Linked DNA regions of Homo sapiens: region 1 is linked to region 2. Evidence: fine-mapped expression QTL. A gene starts in region 2. The other region holds a variant in brackets. All regions are shown on one strand. Distances are from middle to middle.

What was found.
Region 1: its variant is fine-mapped to the expression of SOX3 in tibial nerve (GTEx, PIP above 0.99).

What each region holds. Positions count from the first base shown.
Region 1 is chrX:140,426,236-140,438,345 of GRCh38, reverse strand. No RefSeq gene overlaps it. Among named protein-coding and RNA genes, the nearest start is that of SOX3, 73 kb to the left of the region's middle. RefSeq lists an enhancer at 264-838. The variant C/T (reference allele first, on the strand shown) is at 5,839.
Region 2 is chrX:140,499,378-140,511,487 of GRCh38, reverse strand. SOX3 (SRY-box transcription factor 3) reads left to right here and starts at 6,419. Exons shown (of 1, transcript NM_005634.3): 1 at 6,419-8,503. The coding sequence starts at 6,428. The coding sequence ends at 7,768. RefSeq lists promoters at 6,181-6,467, 5,978-6,686.

The DNA.
Region 1 (12,110 bases), 73 kb after region 2:
ACTTGCCCAAGGTCACACAGTCAGAGAGGATTTCACAGAGCCAAGGCTTGTCTGAAGCCAATGTGTGTTCTTTTTTTTTTTTGACGGAGTCTCACCCTGTCACCCAGGCTGGAGTGCAATTGCACGATCTCTGCTCACTGCAACCTCCGCCTCCCGAATTCAAGCGATTCTCCTGCCTCAGCCTCCCGAGTAGCTGGGACTACAGGCGCGCGTCACCACACCCAGCTAATTTTTATATTTTTAGTAGAGACGGGGTTTCACCATGTTGGCCAGGATGGTCTCGATCTCTTGACCCCGTGATCTGCCTGCCTCGGCCTCCCAGAGTGCTGGGATTACAGGCGTGAGCCACTGCACTGGCCCCAGTGCCTGTTTTCTAAACCATTAGATGATATTGCCTTCTATTGTTATTAATTGTGTTTTAATGTTTACAGTTCTTCAAAGGGTGGCTTTTTGTTTTCCAAAATTTGCCTTTCAAAGTAACATAATTGACAATCACTTGCTTTGTTATTTTAAGTCCCTTTGGGATCATTTTTTCCTTGAAAAGACTAAAATAGCTTCAAACTGCAGTAACACAAAGGGAAACAAGGAGAATTGGGCTCCTAACTTAGGTAGGTCCACCTGTTAACAGGTGTTTGTTGGAGGAACGGAAAATGACTGATGCCAAACTAATAAATTTTAGAACATCCACATCAAAGGGAGCAGCACATGCCAAGACCCTGTGGTTGGAAGGGGTATAGCAAGTTTCTGGGACTGAAAATTCAATGTGGCTGGAGCATAAAGAACAAGGAGGAACATGGTATGAGATGGGGCTGGAGAGATACACATGTGGGGCCTACCCATCATGGGCCTACAAAGTCCTGCTGATGTTTTGAGTCCTTACCCTAAGATCACTAGGAAGCCATTGAAGAGTTTAGTAAATAAAAGGTGCCTGTAATCCCAGTGCTTTGGCAGGCCAAGGTGGGAGGATCATTTGAGGCCAGGAGTTTAAGAGCAGCCTGGACAAGATAGCAAGACTCTGTCTCTACAAAAGAATAAAAAATTAAAAAGTCAAAGGGTAACATGGCATTCTTAAAACATCACTCTAGCTTCAGTGTAGAAAACATATTAGGAAACATAGTAAATCTAGGGAAACAACTAGTAAACTATGTAGTTGTCCAAGCATGAGATAATGGTGGCTTGGACTAGGGTGATGATAGTGGTTTTCTACTATTAATAAATGGTTGCCCAGGAGCCACGCACATAATGTCTCAGATCTTCAGTTTTCTCATCTGCAAATTGTCCCCAACACCATCAACCTTTCTCACATGAAGGTCAATCAAAAAAGAACATATACAGGCAAGCCATTAATTTAACATAATGATAAGCCAGGTCCAGTAATTTTCAATCCTGATTAAGTAATATCTGCTACTTTTCATTATCATGTAATGACTAGGTAGAGCTATAGGTTTTTTTCAGGTTTAGTGTTAACTATACAATAAACACCTGACTAAAACACACTTCTCCTTGTAAGGACTTAAACCATTATAGATAAGACTAGAGTTTCCCTTGACTTCCTTCCCAAATCCTGGTCCCCTTTGTCTCTCCTTAGAGGCAATGTTTAAAGTCCTTGAAATTTGAACTTCAGAAACACAGGTGATGATGCAGACCAACCAATTGTAGCTGAGTTCATCTAGAAGCATAATATTGGGGTCACCTGGAAATACCTAAAAGAAAAACTCTCTCTTTTGGGGCAGCTGCTTTGTAATAGACATCTGTGTTCATGGATCCTCATATCCCACTGTGGTCAAAGGTCGGTTGGATCTCTGCAGGGTTGAATATTCTCCACTTGTACTTTGAAACAGTAAGTGATTTGTCTGCATATGTACACTATATGTCACTAAAAAGCATGTTGTTTTTGGTTTAAAGTGCAAGTGTTCTGTGTCTTGAATTTGATCATAAAGTGAGCACACCTATGAAACCAGCACCCAGGGCAAATTCAAGACAGAGAACATTACTAGCAGCCCAGAAACCCTACTTGGGTCCCCTTTCTATCACTATTCCTCACTCAGAGATAACCATTGACTTCTAATGGCATAGATTAGTGTTGTCTATTTTTGAACTTTATATAAATGGAATAATACAGGATGCACCCTTTTGTGTGTCTGTGTGTGTGTGTGGGGGGGTTGTTTGTTTTTGTTTTTTTTTTTTTTGCTCAATACTAGGCTTGAGAGATTCATCCATGTCCTTTGCACGTAGCAGTAATTCATTATCAGTGCTGTTGCATAGTGTTCCACTGTGCAAATATAACACACAATGTATCCATCCTATTGTTGATAGACATTTAGGTTGTTCCAATTGGGGTTACTTGATTTTACTATATTTTTTATTACACCTGAGCAGGTTTTTCAGCTTTAAATTTACACTGTCATGAGAATGAAATGCCCACAAAACAAAGCTGATTATTTTACTCTCTCAAACTTAAAGTCCTTTGTTGGCTCTCCCTTCCTTTCCTCTGAATTAAATCTGAATTCCTTAGCATGACACTCAAGATCTTGTCCAACATATCCAAAACTAAATGTTGAGCCTCATATCCTGCCACCAAATTCCAGCTACTCATTTCTCATTACTCCCCAGTCATACCAGCCTTTTTCATGACTCTGTGCCTTTTTTGCACATGCCTTTCCGATGATTTGAGATGCTTTCTTCTTTATCTGGAAAACTTCCACTGCTTCTTTAAGATCCCACTCCAATGTCACCTCCTTTGTGAAGCCTTCCTGAATGCTTGTAGGCAGAATCAAGTGACACCATCCTCTGGGTTCCCCTAAAATTGGTTCAGCTTATTAATTTTATTTTCACTTAAGAAAGACATTGCATTTAGTGCATATTCTAAACACTTGACAAATATTAACTCATTGATCCTTAAAATAACCCCTTTGGGACAGGTATGATAAAAAGAGTACTTTTGCCAAGTGAGGAGACTGAGGCACATAGAGTTTAAAAATGACTTCCCTACCTTATGATAGGTGGATGTAGATGTATTAATTTGTAGATGCAGAGCCTAGGTCAAAACCCAGGCAGCCCAACCCCAGAGCTCAGGCTCTTCCTTACTTTGCCACACTGCTGCTATCTCTGGGTTTCACTGCCCTCTGCTTGGATGAATCAACTGGCTGACATACCAGTCTCTCCCACTAGACTGTATCGCCTGTTACCATTTCATTCCTATTTGTGTCCTGAAAGCCTGAGAGAATGCTCAGTAAATAAGAAACATGGTTGAATTCACTAAGGGGAGTGGTTCAGAAGAGCCTGGGAATTTCTGGGTGTGAAATGCAAACAGGTTGCCTAAACAATTAGCTCAAGAACAACGTTCATCCAGGTAGAAGGGTTGTAAGGCTTAAATACGATCATGGGTGTAAAGTGATTAGCCTGGCACGTGGCAAGCGTGTGATAAATGTTATTTCGCACTACACTAATAATAACAGCAGTTCACATTTAACAAGCAATTACCATGTTCCAAGCAATGCTGTAAGTGGTTTATTTAACTAATTTAATCCTCATGATAACACTATAAAGTAAGTATTATTGTCAGAATCTAAGCAGTAAAACAGAAACCACTTCAAGTGTAAACAACAGTGAGAATTTAATGCCTGAAATTGGTGACACAGTTCAGGGAAGACCTAAGAAACCAAAACGGATTGAAGAGGCAACCTGGACATTAGTAGTAGCAGGAAGCTGCTAACACCCATAGGCTGGAGGGACAAAGGGAGGGGACAGTGGTACAGAGCCAGGGGCTGGGATCACCCAGTGAAAGCTAGAATCACAGTGGCAATCTCTGGGACAGAGAAGGAGGGGCCACCAGCAGGGGCTGGAGCCACAGAAGAGATTCAGCCTTGAAGGAGAAACTGCTTGAAGCAGAGATACTTTCACGGCTTCCTGGGACATTGGCCTCTCAGTGCTGAAACCAGAAGAGTCCTGGACAAACTGGGACAAGTTGGTCACTCTGGGACACAGAGAAGCAGGGGAAAGAAATTATCTGGCTTCTTTTTTCTTTTCCCCCTTCTTCCTCCAGTGAGTGCCTCCTATTGGCTAGACCCAGCGGGAAGTCAGCCTGGGAAAGAGCCTGAAGGGGTTAGACCCCCTACCATACAAAGCAGAGCAGGCAAAAAGCTAGAAACGGACTTGAGGGTCAACAGACCCACGACTGGAACAGCCACATGATAGGCACCGAAACTTTCATGCACAAAGGCAACAAACCGCTTGCAGTCTGGGTCTTTGAGTAGCCCCTATCTATAGGGTTGGGTTCGGGCAGCCAGGAACTAGTTTTGGCTGTGCAGAGCTATTTTCAGTCCTGAGGGGCTGTGATTAAACATAACCATGTGACCCGTGACTCCAGCCTCTATCACAACCCATTCCTCTTACACAAAAGGTGAGGCACAGTTCTGCAGTAGATCCCACCTCATGTTGGACAGTCATCAGCACCAGGGCTGCTGGACACAGGGACGGCATTGAGCTAGAGAGTTTGTGCCAATGTAAATCAGCAATCACTAAGCATGCTGTTTAGTTCAGCTGACATTTTATTTTCACAGCAAGATTGTTGATGAAGCAAGTAGTGAATTGATTTACATTCTGGCGCAAGCTCCTTATTTCGTCATGGACCACTAACGAACAGTTCTCAGACTGGCACTGGTGTTTGGATCACACTTTTGTTGGCTTTGTCTCTGGAGAAATAATGTGGTTTAAAAGTAGAGGGGAAAAAAGCATCAGATCAGGGCTCAATCTCTGCTTCTTTCACTAATTGTGTGAGAAAGTCACTTAACCCCTCTCTTAGGTCAGTTTCCTCCTCTGTCAATACCAAACCAAGATGCCCTGCCATCCACACCGGGTCACCTCTGAAGGTTGTTTCCTTTACTGTGGGGCTGAATCCATGACTGGTTGGAAAGGGGTGGATATCTCATTCTTAATCTGCCACAAAACTTGGAGCGGGGAGGCACAGAACTACCGGGACATGCCCATGCTCAATCATGGGGCATTGAAAAACAGAAATAGCCCCTAGAATGTATGGCACAAAATAATCCACTTATACTGGCCTTGTAGCAAATTATGAGTGTGTGTGTGTGTTTGTGTGTGTGTACTGGGAAACACGGTGATAGAGTGGGGTGCAGACAATGGAAAGAAGAGTCGGGAGAATGAGGGGTGGGGTGGTGTGACTGACTGAGCTGCCCAAGGGAAGTGGTAATCAAATGAAATGAGTATCATGGAGAAGTCCAAAGACACTGAAGGAGAACTGCCCATGTGGATGGGCATGTTATGTGACAATGCCGACAGATGGATACCATGTGTAAGCTTCACTGGATAATGCCAAGAGTTCAGTGGATGTGGTGGGAATTACTGTGCCTTCTGGGGATCACATCCTAGCAGTGACACAGGGTTGGGAGCCAAATTGGCATGTCCTCCAAAAATGTGGGTAGGGCTACCCTGGCCTGGCTACATTTTACAGCCCTTACCTTGGCCAGGGACCAGAGTGTGCGTGAGGGTCAAAGCCACCAATGTGCACCTGTGTGTTCACTCACAACAGCTGGGCCACCTCTTTAAGGGCAGCCTTGTATTCCTCTGGTCAGAGGCCAATCCCTCCCCCAACTCCCTTCCCAAACACCCAGCTGCTGTGCTGGGAAGGGCCATTAGTGAGGACAGAAGGAGACAAAGGGGAACCTCTTGTGTCTCCAGATCCTGCAGCTCCCTAGCTGTTCCTATGGGCACACAGATGTCTGCAGACTCTGTGAACGTTGTCTGATAGCCAAAGAGGGCAGTGGGCCAGGTCAGGGAACTGGGACTCCAGCCAGCACTGTCTGCCCTGGACTATCG[C/T]CCAGCCTGAGTCTTTCCTGCCAGAATCCATGCCAGGGGAATGTCCAGTGGTAGATCCAAGTATCCCAAGTTCTTTAGACCCATGATGTCTTTACAGAAAAAATTATGTGCCTGTTGTGAAAGGGCCTTGGTATCTCACACTGAGGCCAGATGTTAGAAACTGTTATCTGGAGGCGGCGCCTAGAGAAGAACATGCTTGGGGAGGCCACAGCCCATATGGCAGTGAGGAACATGCTTGGAGCCTTGGGAAGTTCTGGGGAACCAGGTGGTCCTGTTGCTCTGGTAGATCCACACCATTTAGTGAGATCACATGAAAACCCTTAAAGAACTCAGAGTTACTGGGAGTCAGACTTCAAGCAGAACTTTCAAGCCCTTTCTCCACCTTCCTTCATCTCTTCTGGTTTTATGTTGCTCTCCTCACTTTATCTCTCTTTTCTCCTGTCTCCTATTTGATGCCTAGTGCCCAGGAACTCTGGGGGCTCATCCTCCACCTACCCTAGTTCCCTAAACTTGTCTCCTTCCTGCTGATACTGTAGTTGTTTTAGAATGCTCTGCTGATACTGTACTTGTTTTAGAATGCTATCCCAGAAAATACCCCATTGGCTTGGATCTGGCACTCAGTTCTGGGGCGGTGAGGGGAGGGCAAGAGAGAGGGCGTCTTTTCAGGCAGCATGCTGAGACTGACACTGCCGCAGCTTCCTGTGCTTCCTGCCTGGGCAGAGGTGCCCAGGGGTAACAGCGAGGGTAGCAGCAACAGCTCCATTCACTCAACAGGGTCATAGACTAGGCATTCGCTCAGCTGTGTTATATGCTGGGATACAGCCAGCAGGAACCAGTTCATAGCAATGGAATGAAATTGCCTGGGAGGGACTGTGGTATGGAACTACTACTGTTCTCTGGGAGAGTAAGGGCAAAGGGAACATGTTCAACTCTAGATGGGCACTCCAATGGGCAGAGCATGGACATCAGGGTAGGCTGACAGCAGGCAGCAGGGCCCCAGGCTCTGGGCTAGAGCTTAATGTCAAGTCCTAGGGAACCTCTCCCCAGGCCTCAAATGCCAGGAGCACTAGCCCAGTTTGGTGCGGACTCCAGAGTCCAGGGTGGTGTGGTAGAGGGAGCATTGACTTTGCTTAGAGCATGACAGGCTTGAGTTCAAATCACAGCAATGCCATTTAAGACCTCTGTAAAATTGGGCAAGTTATTTAGTAATTTTGAGTCTCAGTTTCCTAATCTGGCAAATGTAGACACTTCAAAATCATCTCACAAGGTTAGGAATTAAATAAGGCAGTGTCTGTGAAAGTACACTGACTGACATTATTACTAAACTTGGGTCTAATGTAGAGATGGAAGTGCTCTTGGAAGGGAGCAGAAGCCCAGCTATTACCACAAGCTGGGTAGGAATGGGTTTTGCAGAATAGAGCATGCAAGCCAAGCCCAGAACCCGTGCCTGGGGCTACTTAGAAGTCAGGCTTGGCATTGGAGGGGAAAGATTTTAAGCAAAAAAGCTACCTGATCAGTTTTATGTCAGGGGGAGGCAGAGGACAAACATTTTGGAGCTAGTATGACTCAGTTCTGAATCCCTAGCTCTAGCAATAGGAGCTGTATGAGCTTAGACAAGTTATTTAACTTTTTGGCATCTGTAAAATGAGGATAATGATGCCTACTATTATGGGTTAAATTTTATTTCCCCAAATTTTCTGTTGAGGTCTTAACCCCCAGTACCTGTGAATGTGATGTGATTTGGAAATAGGATCTTTGTAAATGATCAAGTTAAAATAAAGTCGTTAGAGTGGACCTTCATCTAATATGACTGGTGTGATGATTAGTTTTGGGCGTCAACTTGATTGGATTAAAGGATACACAGATAGCTGGTAAAGCATTATTCCTGAGTATGTGTTTTTTCATTCATGTTTGTGACAGTGTTTCAAAAACAGGTTAGTATTTGAATCAGTGGACTGATTAAGGAAGGTCTGGCCTCGCCAAATGTGGGCAGGCACCATCTAACCAGCTAAGGGTCTGGATAGAACAAAAGGTAGAAGAAAGGAAAATGTGATCTCTCTTTCTTCTGGAGTTGGGACACCCATTTTCTCCTTCCTTTGGACATCAGAACTCGAGGTTCTCTGGGCTTCAGACTCCAGGACTTGCACCAGCCACCCCTCAGGTTGTCAGCCTTTAGAATTGGACTGAGCCAAGCTACCAGCTTTCATGGTTCTTCAGCTTACAGATGGCATATCATGGGGCTTCTCAGCCTCCATAATCACATGAGCCAATTTCCCTAATAAATCTTCTCTCAAATATCTACACATCTATATATGTCATATTGGTTCTGTTTCTCTGTAGAACTCTGATTAATACAACTGGTGTCCTTATGAAAAGGGAAAATTGAAGGACAGACATACACACACAGAGCACACCATTTGGAGACGAAGATAGAGATGAGTGTGATGCATCTATAAGCCAGGAATGATAAAGATTGCAGCAAACCACAAGAAGCTAGAAGAGAAAAGTGGAACAGAGTCTCCCTCATAGCCCTCTGTAGGAATCAATCTTGCCAACACCTTGATCTTGCACTTCTAGCCACCAGAACCGTGACATAATAAATTTCTTTTATAGTTTTAAAAAATGTTTTAATTTTCAATTTTATGGGTACATAGTAGATGTATATATTTATGGGGTACATGAGACATTTTGATACAAGCATGCAATGTACAATAATTGTATCAGGGTAAATGGGGTATGCATTACCTATCTCAAGAATTTATCATTTCTTTATGTTTCAAACATTTCAATTATACCCTTGTAGTTATTTAAAAATTTACAATAAAACATTGTTGACTGTCATCACCCTGTTACACTATCAAATACTAGTTATTCATTCTACCTAACTATATTCTGGTACCCATTAACCATTCCCACTTCATCTCTACTCCCCATTACCCTCCCCAGCCCCTGGTAAACATCCTTCTACTGTCTATCTCCACGGGCTCAAGTGTTTTGATTTTTAGATCCCACAAATAAGTAAGAACATGAGATATCTGTCTTAATATGTCTGGCTGATTTCACTTAACATAGTGATCTCCTGTTCCATCCACGTTGTTGCAAGTGACAGGATTTCATAAAGCTGAATAGTACTCCATTGTGTTTATGTATCACATTTTCTTTATCCATTCATCTGTTGATGGACACTTAGGTCGCTTCCATATCTTACCCATTGTGAATAGTGCTGCAATAAACATGGGAGTGTAATTACGTCTTCAGTATACTGATTTCCTTCCTTTTGAGTATACACTCAGCACTGGGATTGCTGGATGGTATGGTAGCTCTATTTTTAGTTTTTTTCAGGAACCTCCATACTGTTCTCCATAGTGGCTGTACTAATTTACATTCCCACCAACAGTGTACAAGGGTTCCCATTTCTCCACATCCTCTCCAACATTTGTTATGGCCTATCTTTTGGATGTAAGCTATTTTAACCGGGGTGAGAAGATATGTCATTGTAGTTTTGATTTGCATTTCCCTAATGATCAGTGATGTTGAACACTTTTTCATATGTCTGTTTACCATTTACATGTCTTCTTTCAAAAAATGTCTATTGAGAGCTTTTGCCCATTTTAAAATCAGATTATTGGATTTTTTTCCTATTGAGTTGTTTGAGCTCTTTATATATCCTGGTTATTAATTCCTTGTCAGTGGTATAGTTTGCAAATATTTTCTCCCATTTTGTGAGTTGAGACGATTCATTCATGTTGTTTAAGTCATCTAGTTTGTGATACTTTCTTGTGGCAGCCCTAGCAAACTAATATACCTACCTTAATGGAGGATTAGAGATAATCTAGGCATTCAATAAATGATGACTATTATTGTTGTTCTTTCTCTCAGTTGCTTAATCAGGTATGACTGGGAAGCTCTCGAAAAGCAGGACACTGTGCAGTGTGAGAAGCACAGGTTCCAGGGCCCAACAAAGGCCTGGGTACACCACTTACTAGTTTTGTTACCTTGAGCATGTCACTAAAACTCCTTGATCTTCAGGTTCCTCAGCTCTAATATGGAGATAAGAGTAGTAGCCACCTTAGAGCATTGTGAGAAATGCTTGAGAAAAAGGAATTTAAATGATTACTCAGCATAGTACCTGGAATATTAAAAACACTCAATAAGAGATAGCTATTGTTACTACTATTGTTGTGGTGATTATTATATTATTATTATTATTATTATTATTATATGTAGTATAGAATCTATAGGCTTATGTCAAGTTCTGCCTTATCCTTGAAGCTTTTCTTGAATGCCCTAATCAAATGATTTTTCTTTCCTCTTAATTCCTGCAGCTCAAGCCTTGACACTGAATTACATTTTGTCCTATGAGTTGTTTCAAATGTTTATCTTCTCTTTCCAAGGACACTGAATGCTCTATGAAAGCATGGGTTGTATCTTACTATGTTTCTGTAACTCCCACAGCACCTAAACACAATTCTTTGCTTTTAATAGATGCTCAGTTATTGCTTATGATTGATTGACTGATACATTGAAGCCAAGTAATTGCAGCTTCAACAGGGATTCAGGGGCGGTGAGAAGGGCTCATTTGTAAGCATGTCCAACTTTTGAGTTACCTTAAGGGTTATATTTTTAAATACAGAGGTATTTGCTTTTGTTATCACCTTTCAAAAACAATAATATCCCATTGAATATTGTTAAATTCACTTAAGTATCATCCCACATAGACATGCAGCAGTTAAAAACCAAAAAACCAAACCAAAAAACCCTCCTATCTCAAAAGAGTTGGATTAGATACTATTTAAATGTTAAATTCTAACTTAAATGTTAAATTCTAATTTTGTCAGTTAAAACATGTCCTGAGGTATCCATGGTGTGGGTGGAAGAAGTGGCCTGAAAAAGTGGGTTTAGGACCAGATTGTAAAAGGCAATGTGGTTGGTTCATGCTAAATGTGGTTGGGATTTTGCTTTATAGGCCTGGGGACTCACAATGAAAGCTCTGAGGATGCTGCTTCCTCTGAGGCCTCTCCAATGGGATTACTTTCCCAGCCTTTTTAGCAGAGGGCCTAGAGGGAGAAATTTTTTTTAACTGTTAATTGCTGTTTCCAAAACATGTCTCTACCCTGCCACTCTCATCAATCAATCTCTTGCTCACTTCCCAAGATTCATTGGAGACTGTGATCCCTGACTCTATGGCTTCCTCTCCACCTCACACTTTGCCCTTATGATAGGGGACTTCAATGCCCATGGTGACAATCCACCCAGTACCTCGGCTTCTCATTCTTCTGACTTCATCTACAGTGGCCTTTCCTCCCCTCCACCTGAGCTATGCACTCATGGCCACAACCTGAATCTTATCATCTTGGAGAATTACTCTATCTCGTGAATTCTGAACTCCACAAACTATTCTCTGAACATGATTTTCCTTCCAATTCTCTCATTCCATTATTGTCAGCAGTTTTTAGCTTCATTAAAACCATCAGTCCCTTTTGCTTCTCCAATTACTTACTGTCTGTCCTATCTTTTCTCCCTTAGTATTTTAACCTTTGACCACCCTCTTACTGAAAACTTCAACTTTCATGTCCTCTCATTCATTGAATCTGCTTGGCAAAACTCTTTGCCTTCTTCAACTATATTCCTGCAGAAAACCATACAACCACTTGCAGGTTGGAACTGCTGTAAATTCACATTCTTCAATTTCAAGCATGTCCTAAATAGTGTCAAACAATCCTTCTATGCATCCCTAAGATCGTTCCCAGTTCACACAAAAGATAATTCAACCTGTCATCACTTTCTTTGAGATTACTACCTCATTACCTCTACTGTCATTCTCATATTAACTCACTTTTTACCTTACAAAGACATTTGGAGCAATCAGGTAGAATTTCCTCAACTGCCTATCCTCTTTCTTCCTGAGAAATAAATACACCATACATTGTATTTCTGTTCAACTACACCATTCCTTCTTGTCTCATGAAAGAAGTGTATCCTATTGCTCCTGAAGGCTTATTTCTTCCCTTGTACCCAGCATCTCTTCTCTGTTCCATGATATTATTATTTTTTCATTCTTGTATCTTCAACCTTTCCATGCACAGCATATAAATATTTTAAGTCTCTCCCATTTAAAAAAATCTCATATTCCTGTTTAGAAAACCAACCTCTCACCTTCTCAAATAATGTTTTTGTTGTTGTTGTTGTTGATTTTAGTAAGTTTCAAAAACCTCGGGCTTTAAAAATCTCTGTACTCATCACTTACTAGTTGTATTACCTTGAGCAGGGAC
Region 2 (12,110 bases):
GCGGGAGGAAATATGTTCAGAAACAAGGGGAGATGGTGTTAATTACACAAACATCACATTAGCAAAGCCCCGACGTCCTAACTCGGCGATGCTTTTCGGAGAAATGGAATTGGGATGACAGCGGCCTAGACGCCAAAAAGCCATCACGGCCAGACCTCTCGACAGATCTCATTTTGTCGCGCCGTCTGGCCGCCAGCCCGCGGGGAAACGGGTCTGCCTGAGGATAGGCATCCTCCATACCTGGCAAGCAGCAAGCGGCACGTTAGCTGTTCCTGGGCCGCGTCCCCGCTCTCCGTCGCGAGCAGCGGCCCCAGAGCCTCCCTTTTAGGCCACTCAGACGGCAACGCCGGGACGCTGGACCGCCAGGGCTCCAGGCACGCGGGCGCTTCCCCCTCCGCCTCTCCGCTAGCTGGACTCTGCGCCGCCGTGGGAAAGCGCGCGCGCGCTGGGGAATGAGCGTGGCCCCTGCAGGTCGGGGCGTAGCGACCCCGCTCACGCCAGGTCCTTGTCCAAGATGTTGCGCTTCTCGCGAGGCCCGATTTCTCCGTAGATCAACTAGGGGGATGGGGTAGCATCAGGCGAAAATTTCTTTCTCTCCGAATCCGGAGTCCTCTTGAGACTTTCCCAAGCCATTGCCACTATCTGATACGGAATGGGAAAGTGCAGGGTCTCCGTCCCGTACTTGGTGCACAACTCAGCACATAGCAGGTGGATGACAAAGGTTAGTGAAATGAAAAAAAAAAAAAAAAAATGAGGGCGTTGAAGAGATGAAAAGAGAACATAGAAATTCTGCGCACCAAATTCCACGGCTTTCCACTCTCTTAAAAGAAAATGATAAATAAAAAGAAAAACAAAGAAATAAATAAAAGAGTGGAAAAGGAACCGCTGAGTGCTGCCTTCGAATTTAAAATTTTCTCCAGGATGCTCTACCCAACCCCCTGCCATCCTGCGCCCCCTGTGGTTGGGGCGATAGCTTTGCTTGGTCACGCTGGAAGTGCCTGGAGGTCCACTGATTTTCCAGGCACCCTTTCCCGAGAAGCGCTGCCTTGCCTGGTGGACCCGAATGGAATTGTGGAGACATGGAAAAACTCAAACAGCATTGCATACTGATAACGATTTTAAGATTACTTTATTGGCCCCGGCTTCCTGCAGGTCACCTCGCCTCTGTACAGGTGAGCGCTGTGCCTCTGCAGTCACAAAAGGAAGTGGAAAGGGCAACAGGCCCAGTGGGAGGGCAGGCCTGGACGTAGGGGGCCGAGTTCCCCGAGTTGCTCCGCAGGGGTGGGGGTTTGGCAGTCTGCGGAGCTGAGCGCGTGAGGAGAGTTGTGGGGATGGGCAAAGACGGGTGTAGGAGGGGGGTGAGAGGCAAAGAGGCTGACAGCGATGGCTCAGCAAAGCCCGCTGGAAATGGGACCCAGTGCATGGGCAGAGCCTTCCTTCCTCCGGGAAAATGGCAACTTTCGGGTGGTGAGGTCAGCGAGTAAAAGCAGAAGGCAAAGGTTGTCAAATTCCTTGGAGTTGCTGCGCACATAGGGAAAAGAGAGCTGGTGATTAACACCTGAATACTCTGTGGGTGGAAGGAAACTGAGCGCCAACGTGTGGGCCGAGGGGACTCCCAGTGTATTTTCCAAGTACAGCTCAGCCAACCAAGTGAATTGAATGCGGAAACTTTTTTAAAAGTACCCCCGCACCCTCCCAAAAAAGAGCAACACCAAACTACGATAGAATACAGTTGTACAGCCCGCAGGAGACTTTATGGTACCTCGAGGACCTTGTTTTCCCATACCTCGCAGCTCCTAGCAACCTTTCTTTAGAGACCATCGACTAAGTTATTACAATCTACACCCACCAGCCTAGGGTCTTCAGCTGCTTCTGTGACCTGTAAGAAAGAGTACTTCCGCTGGAGACGGTGCTACGCGTTGGCGGAGTGGGGCTGGGGTTCCTACTGAATGCTCCAGGAACTGGAAGGTGCTGTCTCTACCACCCCGTTGAAATGATGGTGACCTTTCTGACCTTTTTTTTTTTTTTTTTTTACAAGGGATGGTTCTACAATAGACCTAAGCCTATGATTTTTTGATCAAGGCTCTCGATCAGCGGCCTAAATACACAATCTTGGCTAGAAGCCAGAGTAAACAGACAAGGGGTGTTCTCAAGGGAAAAGATAGAAATGACTGCTTTAAGAAACGCAAACTGTTGCGGGTTTGTTTTTGGTTTTGTTTGTCTGTTGAAAATCAAGGCGTCTCCGAGAGTCCCCAGGATAAGTTGTTCTCACTTCCTAAAAGCCAGACCCCGAGCTGGGCTTGGCTACACTTGAGAAACCTGAAAGGCGAACGCTAGGCCACAGCCGGAGGGCAACCTTTGCTGACCCTATTGTCAGGCTTCAGCGGGCCCAGGCGAGCCCAAATACCGCCCACCCCACCCCACTCTCCGACTCTCCGTCCCCCAAGCGACACAGACACACATCGGCCCCAAACCACCCAGCACGCAGAGGACACCCTTCTTCTTCTTCTCCTTCTTTTCTTTTCTTTTTTTTTTTTTTTTTTGAGACGGAGTCTCTCGCTCTTGTCGCCCTGGCTGGAGTGCAGTGGCGCAATCTCGGCTCACTGCAACCTCCGCCTCCCGGGTTCAAGGGATTCTCCTGCCTCAGCCTCCTGAGTAGCTGGGATTACAGGCGCACGCCACCAAGCCAGGCTAATTTTTGTACTTTTAGTAGAGACGGGGTTTCGCCATGTAGGCCAGTCTGGTCTCGAGCTCCTGACCTTAGGTAATCCACCCGCCTCGGCCTCCCAAAGTGCTGGTATTACAGGCTTGAGCCACCGCGCCCGGCTGAGGGCACCTCTTCTAATAAGTTGGGTCCTAATCATGCCAGGGACCTTGAAAAAGGTCCCCTATGAGCAGTTACTGAAGAGGAATCAATGCAGATACCTCCGCGCGAGTCGTGGGACAGCTCCTTTCCTGCTCTTTCCACCAGTAGCTCTAAGGCACAATTGCTGAGTGTTCTTTGCAGATATAAGGCACTTGGGACACCTGATGTCGGCCAAGCCTAGAAATAGGAAGAAGGCAGAGCAGGGGTGCCCTATGTACCCAAAGCCCATTGGGCCAGTCACGCTAGAGTCTTGGTCCCGGAGTTTTGCTATAACCCGCCCTCTAAGGATAGGCATCACATCTGCTCCGCCGCAAATCCGCTTGGTCTCTTTCGAAGGTTGGGGCGACCTCCAAGCCCCGCAGGGCGAAGCGGCAAGAGGCTACGCTGGGTGAAGTTTCCAACCGAAGCCAACAAACGGCGCTATTGTCGCGCCCTGGGTTCTGGGAGCCCCAGGGCTGGCTCCAGTCGGAGGGAGCGGGAGCTCTCTAGGAAGGGCGGGGGAATGGGGAGGAGGCCTTGGTCGGGTTCCCAGCGCCAGATCCGGAGCTCTGTGAACCGCCCAAGGGCACTTGGAGGCTGGAGAGGGCGAGAGAGCTGCTGAGCGCGCTCTCTTCTCCTGAAGAGGTTGAAGGATCGGTCCTGGTTCCCACTGCGTTCCTCTGCTTTCCTCGCTGGGTGCAGGGTGCGCGTCGGAGACACTGGAGTTGGGGCTCCGCCAGCTGCCCTGCCTTCCCGCAGCCCCAGCCGGAACCGAGGCCTCCTGCGCTGTGGTACCTGTCGCGACACCTCTCCCGACCCTTAGCGAAGGTTGCGCCGCTGGGCTGGTGGCTAAGCCTGCGCTGCAGGTGGGCTAAGAACTGATTTATTTCCAGCCTTCCCCCATCTCCCCACGCCCGCAATGGTAACCTTGCTTGTCTATTGAAATGATAGCTTGTATTTAGAAAGTGTCCTGGCAAGAGTTTCCAAGGAAATCTGGCGTGGCTCTTACTTGAGAATGTGCAGATCACCCCAGAACCACCAGATACGGAGATTTTATGTATCTACCCCCCGAGAGGGAGCTGGCCTCAGCGAGAAGCCGGGAGAATTGGGAGAGTGTGCCTGGTCCTGGCAAAAGACTGCTGTAAATCTGGCAGGAGGATGTAGGGCAAAAATGAGCTCACCTAAGCCTCGGGCTAAGTGTGATCAAATGTCAGACAGCTGGGAGCAGTGACTAGTTTCCCCTGGTAATCTGCTGCGGGGAGGGTGTCGGCCCAGCACCGTATCCCCTGCCTTGGGAAATATGCAGCCCAGGCGCTGTCACTGCAACGTTTACTTGGGTCCTAAAACTTGGAAAGAAACCTGACATCTGTGAAGCTACTGGACGCCAGGCCGCGCGTCGGTTGGGTAGTTTCCTAAAACGCGCTTCACTTAGCAACAGCCTCCAGGGCCCAGAAAAGCCCAGAGAGGGCATGCGGGAAAGACGGCAGGAGGGCAGAGATATTGCACATTGGCTTCTGTAGGAGAGGATGGATTTGCCTAAGAAAGTTTGACCTTGTCGGCCACTTCGCCAAGAAAACAGGTGCAGGTAGGGATTGCCTAATCATTATGTTTTCTGAGACGTACTTATCAGCTCACGTTCGCTACGCGCGCGCGCGCGCGCGCGCACACACACACACACACACACACACACACACACACTGTATCTACACACAGAAGCCTTCCAGAGAGTTTACTTACATTTAAAACCCTAAATCCGTATACCCATCCAGTTGACTGCAGCCCTTGGCTGCAGAATACTCAGATCAAGTGGAACACAAACTTAAGGGGCAAGTTTCCAGACCCCAAACTTCCGAGAGATGATGCCGACTGGGAGCCGGGATTCTTTTGCCAGAGGTCCGCCTGGCCGAGAGGGGGCTGGCCTGCCCTGAGCCTCCACTCCCCCCCTGACCCCACTAACAAGCCGAAGAGGCGTACTTTTTAATTCGTGGAGAGAAAGGGGGAAGAGCCCAGCATGCAGAAGTCCCGGGATCGCCTGGTCTTGCATTAACGCTAAGACGCTAGAAACCTGGGATTCCCCCATGCGCCCCCCACCCACTTAAGATTATGCTTTCCGTTTAGTTCCCCACCTTTCCACGGGGCTAGGGATGATGGGGGGGCGAGACCCCACACCGTATGGACACCTTATTTTAGTTTCTGCCAAATCTGCCGGGATGGCTTCTCATTCCCACTCGCTACCTCGGGCTGCTCCGAGAGTTTCAAACGCTGTGCCACTCGCTTCAGCTGGCAGTGGCGATTATCGGGGTTTCCTCTCCCCGCAGCCAGAGTTCCCGCGCCGCTAGTCTTTGGCAGATAACCCAACAAGCAAGTGAATGTCCCGCTCCGAATCTCAGGAAGTCTCTAAAACAATAAAAGAGACGGACGGAATCCGTTAGCAGAGCCTGCTCCCGGGGGAGGCGGCGAGGCTGCGCGCCCAGAGTAGCGCTCAGCGGTCCCGGCAGGTGCGGGGGCAGTGGAGGGGGCCCGGCGGTTCGCCCGGAGGACGGCCTCGGCTCCGCTCCGGCCAACGTTCCCCCCTCCAAGAAACTTTTCTTTCACTCTGAGAGGCTCCGTGTTGCCATGAAAACGGATTTTCCAAGGGGCCCGACCCTCCCCCTCAGGGGCATCGGACTGGAAAAACCGAAATGGCCACAGAGCAGAGACAAAAAGGGGCCGCTAAGCGGGGGCCAGGATCGAGAGAGCGGAGGCCAGTTCACCCCCTACGTCCCACACATACTTTCCACACCACCTTGTGCGAGCGCCTCCGACAGGCTCAGGAGACGGGCGACTGACTGCTTGCCCGCCCTCCTGCAAACCCCCAAGAGCCTCACAGCCGAATGCACCCCGCAGTCCTGAAGCCTGTCTCCCATGCCCGGGCCCCTGACCCACGCTGCGTCCTGGACGCACTGGCCCTCCTAGAGAAAGATCTGGACAACCAGCGGCCAATTCCAGGGAGAGCTTCTTGGAGACGCAGCCAGGAGCACTTCCAATGAGCCTGGAGTCCCTAAGCCGGCCTGGGTAGCTGGTGGTGCCCTGCGTTCCTAGCGCTGGCAGCAGAAGCGGCCAGAAAACCTCCGTGCAGACAACGGGAAGCTTTGCGGGCTGGCCGGGGGATGGGGCGCCGGTCTGCCTTGACAGGGTTGCAAAGTTGTTTTCTAAATTCCGAAGGCGCCCCTCTGCCCCCTCCCCCCAATCTGCTTGCGTGCCCCCTCCCCCCTCCCCCCGTCACCTCCTCAGGTTTCGTTCTTTCAAACTTTTTGAAACCCTAATTGGTGGCCTCTGAGTGGGCCTCGTGGACTCCCGCCTCCTAAGTAACTCTTACCACGTCACTAGGCCAAAGAGGGGCGTGGGGTGAACGAAAGGGCTCCCCGAACTTTTTTTTTTCCAGCCAGGCCGAACGGGGGCTCGGTAATGATTGGCCAGGGCGCATCACTGCGAACCTGTCAATCACGGGTCCTCCGGGTTGCGAGGGGCGGACCAAGCCCCAACCCCGGGGAATCCGAGCAGGTATATAAGGGGCCCAGCTAGAGCCCAGGCAGACTGTGAATGCGACCTGTTCGAGAGAACTCATCAGGTGCGAGAAGCCCGCGGGTTCCTGCTGATTTGGCGCGGAGCATTTTGATAAGCCTACCCTTCCCGCCGGACTCGCTGGCCCACAGGCCCCCAAGCTCCGCTCCGACGGAGTCCCAGGGCCTTTTCACCGTGGCCGCTCCAGCCCCGGGAGCGCCTTCTCCTCCCGCCACGCTGGCGCACCTTCTTCCCGCCCCGGCAATGTACAGCCTTCTGGAGACTGAACTCAAGAACCCCGTAGGGACACCCACACAAGCGGCGGGCACCGGCGGCCCCGCAGCCCCGGGAGGCGCAGGCAAGAGTAGTGCGAACGCAGCCGGCGGCGCGAACTCGGGCGGCGGCAGCAGCGGTGGTGCGAGCGGAGGTGGCGGGGGTACAGACCAGGACCGTGTGAAACGGCCCATGAACGCCTTCATGGTATGGTCCCGCGGGCAGCGGCGCAAAATGGCCCTGGAGAACCCCAAGATGCACAATTCTGAGATCAGCAAGCGCTTGGGCGCCGACTGGAAACTGCTGACCGACGCCGAGAAGCGACCATTCATCGACGAGGCCAAGCGACTTCGCGCCGTGCACATGAAGGAGTATCCGGACTACAAGTACCGACCGCGCCGCAAGACCAAGACGCTGCTCAAGAAAGATAAGTACTCCCTGCCCAGCGGCCTCCTGCCTCCCGGTGCCGCGGCCGCCGCCGCCGCTGCCGCGGCCGCAGCCGCTGCCGCCAGCAGTCCGGTGGGCGTGGGCCAGCGCCTGGACACGTACACGCACGTGAACGGCTGGGCCAACGGCGCGTACTCGCTGGTGCAGGAGCAGCTGGGCTACGCGCAGCCCCCGAGCATGAGCAGCCCGCCGCCGCCGCCCGCGCTGCCGCCGATGCACCGCTACGACATGGCCGGCCTGCAGTACAGCCCAATGATGCCGCCCGGCGCTCAGAGCTACATGAACGTCGCTGCCGCGGCCGCCGCCGCCTCGGGCTACGGGGGCATGGCGCCCTCAGCCACAGCAGCCGCGGCCGCCGCCTACGGGCAGCAGCCCGCCACCGCCGCGGCCGCAGCTGCGGCCGCAGCCGCCATGAGCCTGGGCCCCATGGGCTCGGTAGTGAAGTCTGAGCCCAGCTCGCCGCCGCCCGCCATCGCATCGCACTCTCAGCGCGCGTGCCTCGGCGACCTGCGCGACATGATCAGCATGTACCTGCCACCCGGCGGGGACGCGGCCGACGCCGCCTCTCCGCTGCCCGGCGGTCGCCTGCACGGCGTGCACCAGCACTACCAGGGCGCCGGGACTGCAGTCAACGGAACGGTGCCGCTGACCCACATCTGAGCACCGGCCTGCGCTCGTCCACCCTTGTTCCCCACCCCCACCCCCACTCCCGCCCCGCACCCCCAAGTTGGGACGCCTTGTTTAGCTTTGCTTGCCTGGGACTGTTGCCTTGTACCGATGATGGGGAGGGCTGAAAGTTTTGCTGTAGCTGTCGGGTTTTGTACAAAAGCAAAAATAAGTCAGGAGCAGCGAAAATGGGACTTCTAGAGAGCTCTCTTGCCCCACGCCGCTGCTCCTTTCACCTTTGTAGGCTGGGAATCGCTGTGTTATTTGCAAAGAAAAAACAGCCCCCACTCCTCCTCCTGAGTTCCAGGGTTATTCTGTTACATTTGAAAATGTTGTCTTGTTAGTTTGCAGTTAGCCAAGGAGTGAATGGGAGAAACATAGTATCGGGTGAGGCCAGCTGGAGAACTGCAACGCCTACGCCCCCAGTCGTGTCGCGTCTGTTTTCCTCGTGGTTTTTTGGGGCGCTGACCGCTCCAAGCAGCGCGGCAGCTAAAGCCAATGTTAATTTATAGCCAGGTGTGCGTGTGTCTCCCGCCTCGCCGCCCCTGGCCGCGGGACAGCTTCTGTCCAATCATGTTGAGTTGGTGATTTCTGCCGTGATCTGTTTGATATTTCTTCGCGCTAATGTGTTCAGATTTCGTTTGGGTAGTGGGGAGGGGCTACTTTGTTTCAGGGTTTTCAAGCTTTTACTCTTAATTCCTAAATGAGATCAATAAATTTTATAACCAACATGATGGAGTCCTGATAATTTTGCGGCCCTGAAACTTTTTTGCAGGTTGGGGAGGAACCAACACTCGGTTTTACAACTGAGATCCCATCCTAGGGGCGGGGTGGGACCTGGGGGGAGGCAAGCATAATCTGAAATGGTTTCCTTTTAACTACTGGTGATCCACCATACACCAGCTTCCAATATTCTCAACTGAAACTCGGAACAGAGTTCCGAGTCTTCCAGGAGCGTCTCCCGAGAGCGGGCACACAGTAGTAGCTAATGCGCAGAGCCCGCGGCCGCGCACTTGTTGATCGCAGTGAGCGTCTGCTGAAAGTGTCTGCTGCCGCAGCCACGCGAGGCGGGGCTGGAAAGGCGCGGCCGCTGAAACCGACCAAAAACGGGGCACTTTTACCTTTGTGCACTGGGGCGGGAAGACATTTGAGCCTAGCTGAAATATTTACAAAACGAAAACCCTTCGGAAATCTCGATGATCCTATTAAAAATAAATGGTTACAGGGATCCCCAGCAGGAAACAAATACGTTTCAACCCTGGTAGCTGAACCGCCGGAGTCAACATTCAGCGCTGGAAGATTTGGTATTAAAAAGTACTCCTTAGATTTTCAAAGATCTCCGAAACTCCTCCCAGGCGTTTTGTTTTTAACATGTCAACTCAGTCCACCTATTTGTTTTCCAGAGAAGGCTCCTTTTCATCCAGAGTCTCGAGCCCGCTTTCTACTCCATCCCCCTCCCCACTCCATCCCCCTCCCCACTTTCCTCCAGTCCCTGACCCTTGGCCATTCCACTGTGCCCCCCGAAGGGCCTTTAGTTTCGCGCCCAGCCACACGGCCCCAGTGTATCTGTTTGGGGCCTAGGAAGAAAACAAATAGAACCAGTGTTTTTTTACCCCCTCCTCAGCTGTTTGAGGTGATTTCCTTAATCCCTTTAATCCTGTTACCTCGCTATCCCAGAATAACTAAACTCAGCCTTTCCAATAAGCTTGGCCTGGTGCACTGTTTTTATCCTCATCCACTACTGACCACAGGTTTCTTTGCTTGAGGTCCGCTGGGACCCTAGGCGACAGAGTCTCCCGTAAATTGGTCCGAATTCCACATTTCCAGCCGGCTTCCTTTGTGTGGGCCAGTCATTCACCTGCGGGCCGGGGAGGGCCTGGTGGGGGGGTGGGGAGGGGGCTTTCTGAGGCTTCGGGGGTCGTGCCCGCTTTTTACACATCACTGCGGATCCTGGAGACTAAACCCACTCCGCCTCTTCAAGAAAGGTCGGGTCTCCCTGGGAAGGCAGCACCAGCCCCCTAAGACATTTCCACTGCCAACCCTCACCCCCCGCATTCCATCCCCCACTGTGCAGCATGGGGTGGGAGGGGGCCGGCGTTGATTTACAGACCCATACGCTTTGCCCTCCACCCAGTCCTCCTCCTGGTCCTGCCGCGCGTCCAGGCTCGGGTTCGGGTTCAGTCTTAGCCTTGGTACCACTCCCCCTTCTCCCAATCCCAGGGCCACAGACCTCGCCCCCCTCCCGGCTGGTTGGTGCTTCAATCCTTGCTGCTGTGATTGGAGCAAACCTGCAAGCTGCCTGGTCAGTGAGCCTCATCTCCCCTGGCCCCTCAACCCGGGTGCTCCAAAAACCCAGGGGCGAGAGGAAACTCTTTTGTCCCATCTATCCCCCCACCATATTTTTACCGTGTTTGGCCTTCAATAAAATACCTGTCCGTAGGTTACTCTGGGTTTCCAATTGCTAGCAATTGTGGACTCAAATTTGGTCTGAAATGACTCCAGGAAAGGGAGGGTAAAAACAAGCAATTCGCCCCCACTGTGGGAGGCGGTGCCAACAGGGGAATAAACTCTGACACTGCTTCTTTCGAAGAGTCCATTGTGCTGCTGCCTTCTTAGAAGTGCCAGGGTCACCCTTTCAGTGTGTCTCACATACCGCTCACTCTCTCTCTAAACATCCATGGCTTTGTGCTTCACTTTGTCTGATTTCCAAATTGCCCTTAAGGGAAAAGATTTCATCAATCAGCACATTAGGAGGATTTAAATACAGATGAAAAATGATTTTTTTTTCTTTCCTTCAGCAATAGGGAAGAGAACGGAACTGAACTAGAATGAAACTTTCATCTTCTAGGCCAGAGTTTTCAAACTGGGGCCCCTCCCCCACTCCTCCCCACTCACGTCTATCAGGGCAACCGAACCTTAATCCATTTTATAGATTGGGGTTCTGATAAGGTTTAATTTGTAATAAGGGTTCTGCTGCTTAAACAGCAACAATAATGAAATCTGGTCAAACTCCAATTCCTCCTCCCTCCTCTTCCTTGTTTTACATAGGAGGAAACTGGCCCCAAAAGGGGAAATGACGGTGCTCAAGGTTGCGTAGCTGGTTCTACCGCGGCGCAGTGGAACCACACTCCCAGGCCTGGGAGGGTACTCTCTCCTCTGCCGGCCACAAAACCAAGAGATAAACCAGTGAAATCACAGCCCCAGCTGCCCCTCAAAGCCATAATCCAGCGGGGCCTCTAGAGAAAGGCAATTCCTGACACAGAGACTCCTACTAGCCACCTCTTCGTGAATGATGTGATGTGGGAAGCATCAAGTCCTTACCGAGGGAAAATGGCTAGTCCATTTTTTAGCTTCTATGATAGGTGCAGAGCTACTTTTTGGTGGGAATTACCCTAGGTAGAGTTTTGCTTTCCTATCTTCTGACTATACAACTTCCTTCATTAATCCCCCTTCTAGAAATCTAGGAGTGGGTGAGGGTTGGGGCTGAAGAAGCGCATCCAAAATGCAGCCAAAGATTTATAACAAAGATACTCATCACAGCCCTTCTTATGCAAAAAAGTTCCAAACAGACCAAATGTCCAACAAATGGAGAAAGGTTAGGTAAAATGTTTTAAAAAGTCTGCTTTGCAGACATGAAAATCGTTTACAGAGAAATTTTTAATGACACAAGGAAAAGCTTAAAGCACAAAGCATAAACAGCAAGATACACAGAACTATATTCAGTGTATATGACCTTGACTATTTAAAATAAGTATATTCGACTGGAGAAACATGCAAAAATGCAGGGTAGTGTTATGAATACTGGTTAGTCATCCTTCTCATACTTTCCAATTTTCTCTAATAGGATTGCATTCCTGTTATCACTAGAAAAGGCAGGTTTAAAATATATTCTCTCCCTATCACAAATACAAAATTGTGTCTCCTTGTGAAAGAGAAAAGTTCAAGCCTTTCCTTCAGCTGTTTTGGGATGGGGAGGGGGCAGGGAGCCCCAGGAGCAGTAATCCTCTAGCTTTTCTCCAGGTTGGGGCCTGCAGTTAACACAAGCAGGACAAGCACACCAGAGCAACCCCCTGCCAATTCCCCTCCTCAGTAAGCAGGAGCAGGATCAGATTAGTGAGCGGCTCCGTCATTCTTCAGACCCACTCACTGGAGAAAAAGACCTCCTTGGGAGCCAAGCTGAACAGCCTGGGCTGCGGGGAGCTGGGGCCGCTGAGGAACCAGAAGGCGCTTAAATGCAGGGGCCCAATCAACCCTCACTGCCCTCTTGAGAAGGGGGCAGAGAGCAAGCCCAGGGGTGGGTTCCCAGGTCAGGCAGAGGAGAGGTTAGGTGAGCACC